Homo sapiens: one gene and its partner. The protein of the gene in region 2 purifies or fractionates together with the protein of the main gene of each other region. This does not show direct contact. Each region holds a gene or a part of one and is shown on either strand. Other genes may lie near its edges. The genes, in order: IVNS1ABP and PRPSAP1.

Region 1 (3,912 bases), on a different chromosome or scaffold from region 2:
TCCCACCTTCCAAAAGCAAGTAGCCAAAAAGACACTAATTTAAAACTAAGACTAAAACCTGAAATGTTTTGTCTTGGGGGGAAAGTTAGAAAATCAACTACAAATTAAGACAATGGCTATAGAAATTAGTATCTATTAGTTAACCAGAGATATCATCTATTAGGAAAACACAGAGGAAAACCATTCCAGGGCTCTCTTTGGTCAGTGGCTCAAGTTCCGTTTACCTCTGGCTACCAAATTATAAGCTTGATAAGCAGCCTGCCAGCTGGCGTTAAATGATACTAGTCTCAATTCAATTCTAAAGTCCATGTTTACCTCACGTCCAGACTTAACAAATACAACTACTCTTTCAGTATCTTTAAGACAGAAGTGTCAGCAGGCTTTAGCCTAAAAGTAATCATCAGTATTTTGTTTTTCCTAAATCAATCACTGGTGCTAGAATTATTAAAAGAAAGCATGGCCTGTGGCAGTCTAGTCCATGCTGTACTTATTCATCTGTTAAGAGTGGTACTAGGCTTCCAGAGTTGTCATCTATTAGTAGACAGAAGACCACGACACACTCAACGAACAGCTTGATGCCAAGGTGTTCTAACGCTCCATCACTGCACGCTCCATCACAAAAATGCGCCCTTTTGGACATCTGATTTCTCCTTGAAATGTCAGCTGTCTCAAACCAATAGATATGTCCACTACCTATTGGGGGAAAAAGTAAATGTAGTTCTCAAGTAGTGGTTCAAGTTACCCTAGGTTCAACCCTCAGCCTGATACCTTCCTATCATCAAGAGCTTATAATCAGAGACACTTAACCAAAAGCGTGGAGGGACGGAAAAAGAGCAAATCTTGCCACTGATTTCTTTCATAAAAAAGAAAGAGCGTCCCAGGCCTTCCTCCTCGCGCAGCCAGGCCGGCGCCCACTCCGCAGGCTGCGAGGCGAGGCCCCCAGCACCCGCACACCCCCGCCCCGGATTGGCCAGCCCCGCAGTCACTCAGTACCGACACGTCAGGGCAGCCGCTCCCTCCCTCCTCCCGCCCCCTTCTCCCCGCGCTTGGCAAGAAAAGCGGGCAACGTGGAGCGGGAACAAAGGACCCCGCGGCCCACGGCGATCGGGGACTCCGTGCCACCCTACTCCAGGCCCGGGGCTGGCTGCCCGCCCACACGAGCCGAGTCTCGAGAGCTCTTCCAGAAGAGAATCCCAAACCCCAGGCAAACCCGAGGCGAGGCGTCCGTTCCTGACAGCAAGAACGGGGAGTCCCGCGCCCTCCTTCCGGCGGGTCATCCCCGCCCGCGGCGCCCTAACCCAGGCCCCCCAAAACCCTTCGAACAAAAAACTCTTGTTCCTCCCAGCCTGCCTCACCCGCGCCAGTGTAGCAAAGGGGCTCCAGCCTCCGCGCTCTCCGAGGCGACCGGCGCCCGCTCTCGGCCGCCAACGCAACTTGGCAACCATGGCAGCGCTGGAGCGCGGGCCCAGCGCGGCGCGGGCTTCACGTCCCAGAGGGCGGCGGCGGCCGCTTGGGGCTGCCTCCCCTGATGAGGACACCGCTTCCGCGCCTCCCACCCTCTTCCCATCCGCCGGCGCCATCCCTTCTTCTCGGATTCTAGCCGCGCCGTCTCCCTCATCTGTCGTTCGTAGAACCAGCGCGTATTACCTGGTTCATCTCTGAAGAGATGGAAACATTCATTTCTAGAGCTTCGATGGGAAGCAGGAGGAAGCGGGCGGGAATCGGCCCAACGGAAAGCGCCAGAAGGCGGCGGAAGACGGGAGCGGTCAAGTAGAAGGACGAGGGGCCAGTCCGTGGAGACTGAAAGGAAGGGGGAGCGCCACCGAGAACTCGCGGGAACTCGCTCGCTCGCCGATACAGCCGCGCCGAAGCAGCAGGCGGAGAAACTGCGCCCAGCAGCTCTGAGCGACCGACCTCCACGCGCGACCGGGAGACACTGCCTCCGCCGCCGCCGACCGCTCGCGCCGCACCCCCTCGCACGTCACCACGTGCGCTGCCGCCGCCGACGCCTCCCAGCCCGCTTCCGTCTCGAATCCATCTGCAAATCACAGGCGAGCTCCATAAAGATCCCACTCTAAGCCCCGCCCCACCCGCGGCCCCGCCCACATCCCGCCCCGCCTTCCTCCCTGGTCTACTGGGGTTCCTTCCTTCTCGGTGTAACTAGGTCAGCGCAAGGTGATCCTGAGGAGATAGGCGGCGCTCGGGGGGCGCCCTCGTTCCTCTTATCGCGCCTTTGTCCCTCCCTCCGTTCCTTGCCCCGCACCCTCACTTTCGCCGCCCTGTGCGTTGCCTGTCCCGGAACTGGTTCCCTCAAGCCGCCCTCACCTGTTCTGACTTCCCCTCGAGGCACAATAGCCTGAGAGATCAGACGTGGGAGATTAGATTGCTCGGCGTCAGACCTACTTCTAGGCAACCCCCCCTAGACTGGAGCTGCTCGTCGTGGACATTAGGATCTAGTTGGGCATGAGCCCTTAACTTAAGGGTCGGGGGGGAAGTGGCGGGTGCGGAGAGGAGGCGTGGAGAGTGTGAGGAAGAAGAGAGGCACTCTGAGAAGAAGTCGAACAACTAACCCCTCATTTGGCCTGGTTTGGGTGAGAAGATTGAGTCACTTGGGGAAAAAAATATTGGAGAAGTCAGAGAAGGTGTAAATCAGTGGTGCCACAAACACCAGTTTACTTCCACTTTTCACCCCCCGGGTCTGTTTTGTCTGCGTGCAGCTCTCCTCGTGTCGGAGACGCTGAGTCAGTTCTCTACTGGTCTTGCCCTCTTCCGGAAAAAGAAAACACACCTGAGAAGTGGTAGTTCCTATCCTAACCTACTGGGGCCCTTTATACCAGGTGCCAAACTTCATTATCCACCCCACCACCTTGCCCGGGAGGGAGATCTGTGAAAGCGAAACGTGATTTAAGCTGGGATCTGGCAGCAACTTCGTGGACTCTGAAGGGCACGTGGGAAAGGAGTTTTGATTGAAGGTGAGGGATTTAGTGAGGTAAAATTATATCCAAATTAGAGTTTGGTAAAGGCTTCCAGGTTAATGTCCTGTTAACGCTTATCCTGATTTGTGGAGGACACTTAAGCTGTCTAGGCCTAACCTTGTGTTTGATCACTCACCTTAATTTGTAGACATTCTAGGAGCTCTTTGTCAATGCCTCTTACCATTTTTATCATTAACTATTTATGCTTATAGAAGCAGGAAAAATAAATTGTGGGAGCCTTCATCTGCAATAGGTTTACAACTTTTTTTCTAAAATCTTGAGGCAAGGAGACTTATTCCCCCGCCCCTTTTTTTCTCACAGATTTCTTGTATGTCTCCCTCGCCCCGCCCGCACCCCGTCCCCCCGCCCCCGGACAATTAATTGTAGGAGGAAACAAGAACTAAGATGTCTATTCGAGTGATTTTTTATATCTTTCTTAAGGAGAAAAAGACTGACATTTGACACTGTGCTCTTGTTTTGTCTTGCTGATAATAACTGACAGCAATGTTTACTTTTCTTACAAATGAAACTATCAGGGTACGTACTTTTAAGCTCTTTAATACAATGGGTTTCATCCTTCCAGTGGGAGAGTATGAATTGCCCACTCTGCGTAGACACATGACTGCTGGCCTGTTGGACACATGGTCACACTTGCTATACTCTAAATAGTGTCTTTGTGACCTGAAACAGTCAACACTTTTCTTAAAGCTACAGTGTGCCCACACTCATTGTATTTTTGCTTTGTATGGAATTTCAAATTTACTTATTACCTTCTCTATGAATAATAGCATAACTTATGCATTCCATTTATGCCTTTCAGGGAACCTGATGGTTAATTTCTACCTCTTAAAGTAACACATTATGTTGTAAGATTTTGCTCTTAATATAGCAGTCCCCCTTATCCTTGGTTTCACTTTCCAAGATTTTGTCAACCATG
Region 2 (3,912 bases):
CTGGTGGCCGGCGCGTGTAATCCCAGTTACTTGGGAGACTGAGACAGGAGAATCGTTTGAACCCGGGAGGCAGAGGTTGCAGTGAGCCGAGATTGCCACACTGCACTCCCAGCCTAGGCAACAGAGCAAGATTCCATCTCAAAAAAAAAAAAAAGCATTTAATACGCCTAACCTACTAAACATCATTAACTTGGCCTAGCCCTACCTTAAACATGCCCAGAACAGTTACATTAGACTGCAGGTGGCAAAATCATCTAGGGCAAAGGCTTTCATTTTATAATAAAAGCGATTATTTTAAAATAAAGTGTCTCAAGTAATTTATCGAATACTATACATTACATCGTAATTGCAATGGTTTTGCATCATCATAAAGTCAAAAACTTCTAAGTTGAACCATGGTAAGTCGTGGACTATCTGTATTCCTAAACATGTATCTGTCCCAACGAACTGCTAGCCAGCAAAAGCTAGAAAAGCTATAGACAGATTAAGCAATTTAGTATTGACTGAATCATTTTATTATTCCCAGAAAACACAGCAGTAAATCTTGGCTCAAGATTTAGAAGCAGCCTGACCTCGTCTACGGAGGACTCCTCAATCAGGCGAGGGGCCTCTGCAGACAGGATGCCGTGGGTGGCCATAACATAGATCTTATAGGCGCCTCTCTCTTTCAGGATCTCCGCGGCAGCAACAAAACTCTCCACATCGTCAATAATGTCATCCTGGGAGGAGAACAGAGTGAGTTGGTAGGAAAGAAACACCCTCTAGCCCATACTGTCAATGCACACACCACTCTACTCTCTTCTGCACTCAGTTTCAGAGGATTTCTGATGGAAAATCAGAGCTGTGTGCCTGGGTCAAAGAACGAGCATCCAGAAATGGCAACAGAAGCACCTGACAGTACCTTGTGTGTCTGTCAGAGGCGGGCGCAGTCAAGCACCTGTGACATTACGGCTGGAGCTGAGGATTGCCAACACTCATTTTCCTGTCTCACGTTTCTGGTGAATCCCACATAGCCAGCGTTCCATTTATTTTTTTTTCAAATAGACTGTGACATGAGAAGAAAACTGAAATAAAGTGTGCTACTGCAAAGGACTCATGACCCACTAGCCAGCAGATATTTAGAGCTGGGAAAAAAAGTATGTCAACATGCAGAACGAGTCTGCACGGGGACACCCATTCTTACTTGTGAAAACGGAACAGCTCATCTTCAGTTCATCTTTCGGCCCTAACGCTCAAGCATGATTAGGTGAGCTGGTTTAAAGAACCTAGAATCCACATGATGAAGGTGAAGGTGCTGAATTTTCTCACGGGAGTACTGTGCTCATTTCCTATCTGTAGGTTATACTTTAATGTATGTTCACCTGGATACAGGTTTCTGCCACTTGGCACAAGGGAGTTTGGGTGAGAAAGGATACATGGATCCATTCGGATCATCGTTCCTAGAAATACAGTCCCAGAGTGGACAACCTACTGACCAAGAGCCAGGAGTGCCACCTCTGCACATGGATGACATATAACCATACCACGATGATTGCGATGCGGCCTCCAACATCTCCAACTACAGTTATCGGTGGCTTCTCTTTGGCCATCATCACTAGCAAAACAAAACAAATTACAAGATCTCAGTCATTCATGTATCACTAGAGAAATGTAATCACAACCTAATTCCCTGGAAATGGTGGCAAAACCACTATACAGACAAAAAACAAACAAACCATGCAAATTCCCCCTCAATGAACCTGCAATCTCTCAGAAACAGCAGCATTGGCCAAAAGAAATAGAAGGCATGCCATACATGTTACTTTGAATTTTCTAGTAGCCACATTAAAAACAGATGAAATTAATACATTTTATTTTATGCAATTCCCAAAATATTATAATTTCAACATGTAACTGATATAAAAATGTATGTATGTATGTATGTATGTATGTATTTTTTGAGACGGAGTTTTGCTCTTGTTGCCCAGGCTGGAGTGCAATGACGCGATCTTGGCTCACTGCAACCTCCGCCTCCCAGGTTCAAGCAATTCTGCCTCAGCCTCCCGAGTAGCTGGGATTATAGGCATGCGCCACCACACCCAGCTGAGTTTTGTATTTTTAGTAGAGATGGGGTTTCTCCACGTTGGTCAGGCTGGTCTCGAACTCCTGACCTCAGGTGATCCACCCGCCTCAGCCTCCCAAAGTGCTGGGATTACAAGCTTGAGCCACCACGCCCAACCTGATATAAAAATTAATGAGATGTTTTACACTTTTTTTTCTCAGAGGGGATCTTGCTATGTTGCCCCGGCTCATTTCAAACTGGAAGCAAACAATCCTCCTACCTCAGCCTCCCAAAGTGCTAGGATTATAGGCATGAGCCACCGCACCCAGCCTTACACTTTTTTCCTATCAAGTCTTCTCTACTTGGTGTGTGTTTTATACGCACAGCACTTCTCAGTTGAGACGGGCCGTGTCTCATGAGCTCAGCAGCCAGCACATTGCACTGCACAGCACAGCTGGAAAGACAACGAACCAGCAGAGCATGGAAGATTCTGCCAACACGGAGAAGCTGCACCGCAGTGCTGTGTGGATAGAAACCCCACTCTCACAGAGACTGACAGAGACATGCAGAAGGAATGCCGCTCTGCAGAAAGCGAAACAGCGAAAGGCTGCCAGATCATGAGATGGCTTTATGTTATTTTCTTCCAAAGTCACCTTATTTGGACAGTGTAACCTTACTATCAGATAACTGCACTACTGACATAATCAGAGTTTCCTCAAAATCAGGAACTTGAAGACAATAACTCCAGGCCCATCATCTTTTCCTGATTTAATTGGTGCTTAAAGTAGAGACTTTTATCTGACTGCAAAATCTGCATCTGAAGAAAGGCTATGAGTGTACAAAGGAAACTACAGGATAAAGAAAGGAAATAAGATTTTATCCTCAAAAGGAGGTTAGTAAACAGAGAAGAAAAACAAAGACTACTTCAGAAGAACAGGCTAAGTATTCTTTCTTTAAACTTTGTTATTATTCTGAAATATTTATTAGGCTAGTAGTGGGGGAAGCGAAAGAGAATAAAATTCAGGGTAACAAGAGTTTAGTGACTACCAACAAACAATTTTTGCAGATTCCCAACAGGCACTGTGTATCTCAAAGAACAGGTGTTTTTCTCTGTATACTGGCAAATCAGTTGAGCTGAAATTCACCACTACTTTATACATTTCAACAAACATATATTTCCTGATTTCACATCCTAGAAACAAAGACAACTTCTTGAATTTGGGCAAGACAAGAAGGCTTTGCATATAAAATCACTTAAAATGGGGGGAGGGGGGTTTCAAACCACCAACATTAGGAGCAGCTTCCTGAGATTCTGTTTTTAAATTAAACCATGTAAACACGCAGTTATGTTGACCTATCCGCTTTTTTTTTTTTTTTTTTTTTTTTTTTTTCTTGAGACAGAGTCTCACTCTGTCTCCCAGGCTGGAGTGCAGTGGCACGATCTCGGCTCACTGCAACCTCTGCCTCCTGGGCTCAAGCGATTCTCCTGCTTCAGCCTCCTAAGTAGCTGGGATTACAGGCACGTGCCACCACATCTGGCTAATTTTTTGTATTTTTAGCAGAGGTGGGGTTTCACCACGTTGGCCAGGCCACCTTTGAGAGGCCAAGGCAGGCGGATCACCTGAGGTCAGGAGTTCAAGACCAGCCTGGCCAACATGGTGAAACTCTGTCTCTACTAAAAATATAAAAATTAGCCAGGCATGGTGGCACACGCCTGTAATCCTAGCTACTCAGGAGACTGAAACAAGACTTGCTTGAACCCAGGAGGCAAAGGTTGCAGTGAATTGAGATCGCACCACTGCACACCAGCCTGGGCAACAGAGTGAGACTCCGTCTAAAAAAAAAAAAAAAAAGAAAAAAAAAAAGAAAGA

Evidence for each region.
Region 1: the proteins of PRPSAP1 (region 2) and IVNS1ABP purify together in Homo sapiens (affinity purification with mass spectrometry; 3 studies listed by BioGRID and IntAct, with this or other methods). This does not show direct contact.

The regions. Positions count from the first base shown.
Region 1 is NC_000001.11:185,315,306-185,319,217, forward strand, and holds the start of IVNS1ABP (influenza virus NS1A-binding protein), read right to left. Parts: upstream 1,939-3,912; 5' UTR 1,648-1,938; exon of another isoform or gene 1-1,647. UniProt on the Homo sapiens protein: Involved in many cell functions, including pre-mRNA splicing, the aryl hydrocarbon receptor (AHR) pathway, F-actin organization and protein ubiquitination.
Region 2 is NC_000017.11:76,312,298-76,316,209, forward strand, and holds part of PRPSAP1 (phosphoribosyl pyrophosphate synthase-associated protein 1), read right to left. Parts: intron 1,595-3,912; coding exon 1,524-1,594; intron 720-1,523; coding exon 573-719; intron 1-572. UniProt on the Homo sapiens protein: Seems to play a negative regulatory role in 5-phosphoribose 1-diphosphate synthesis.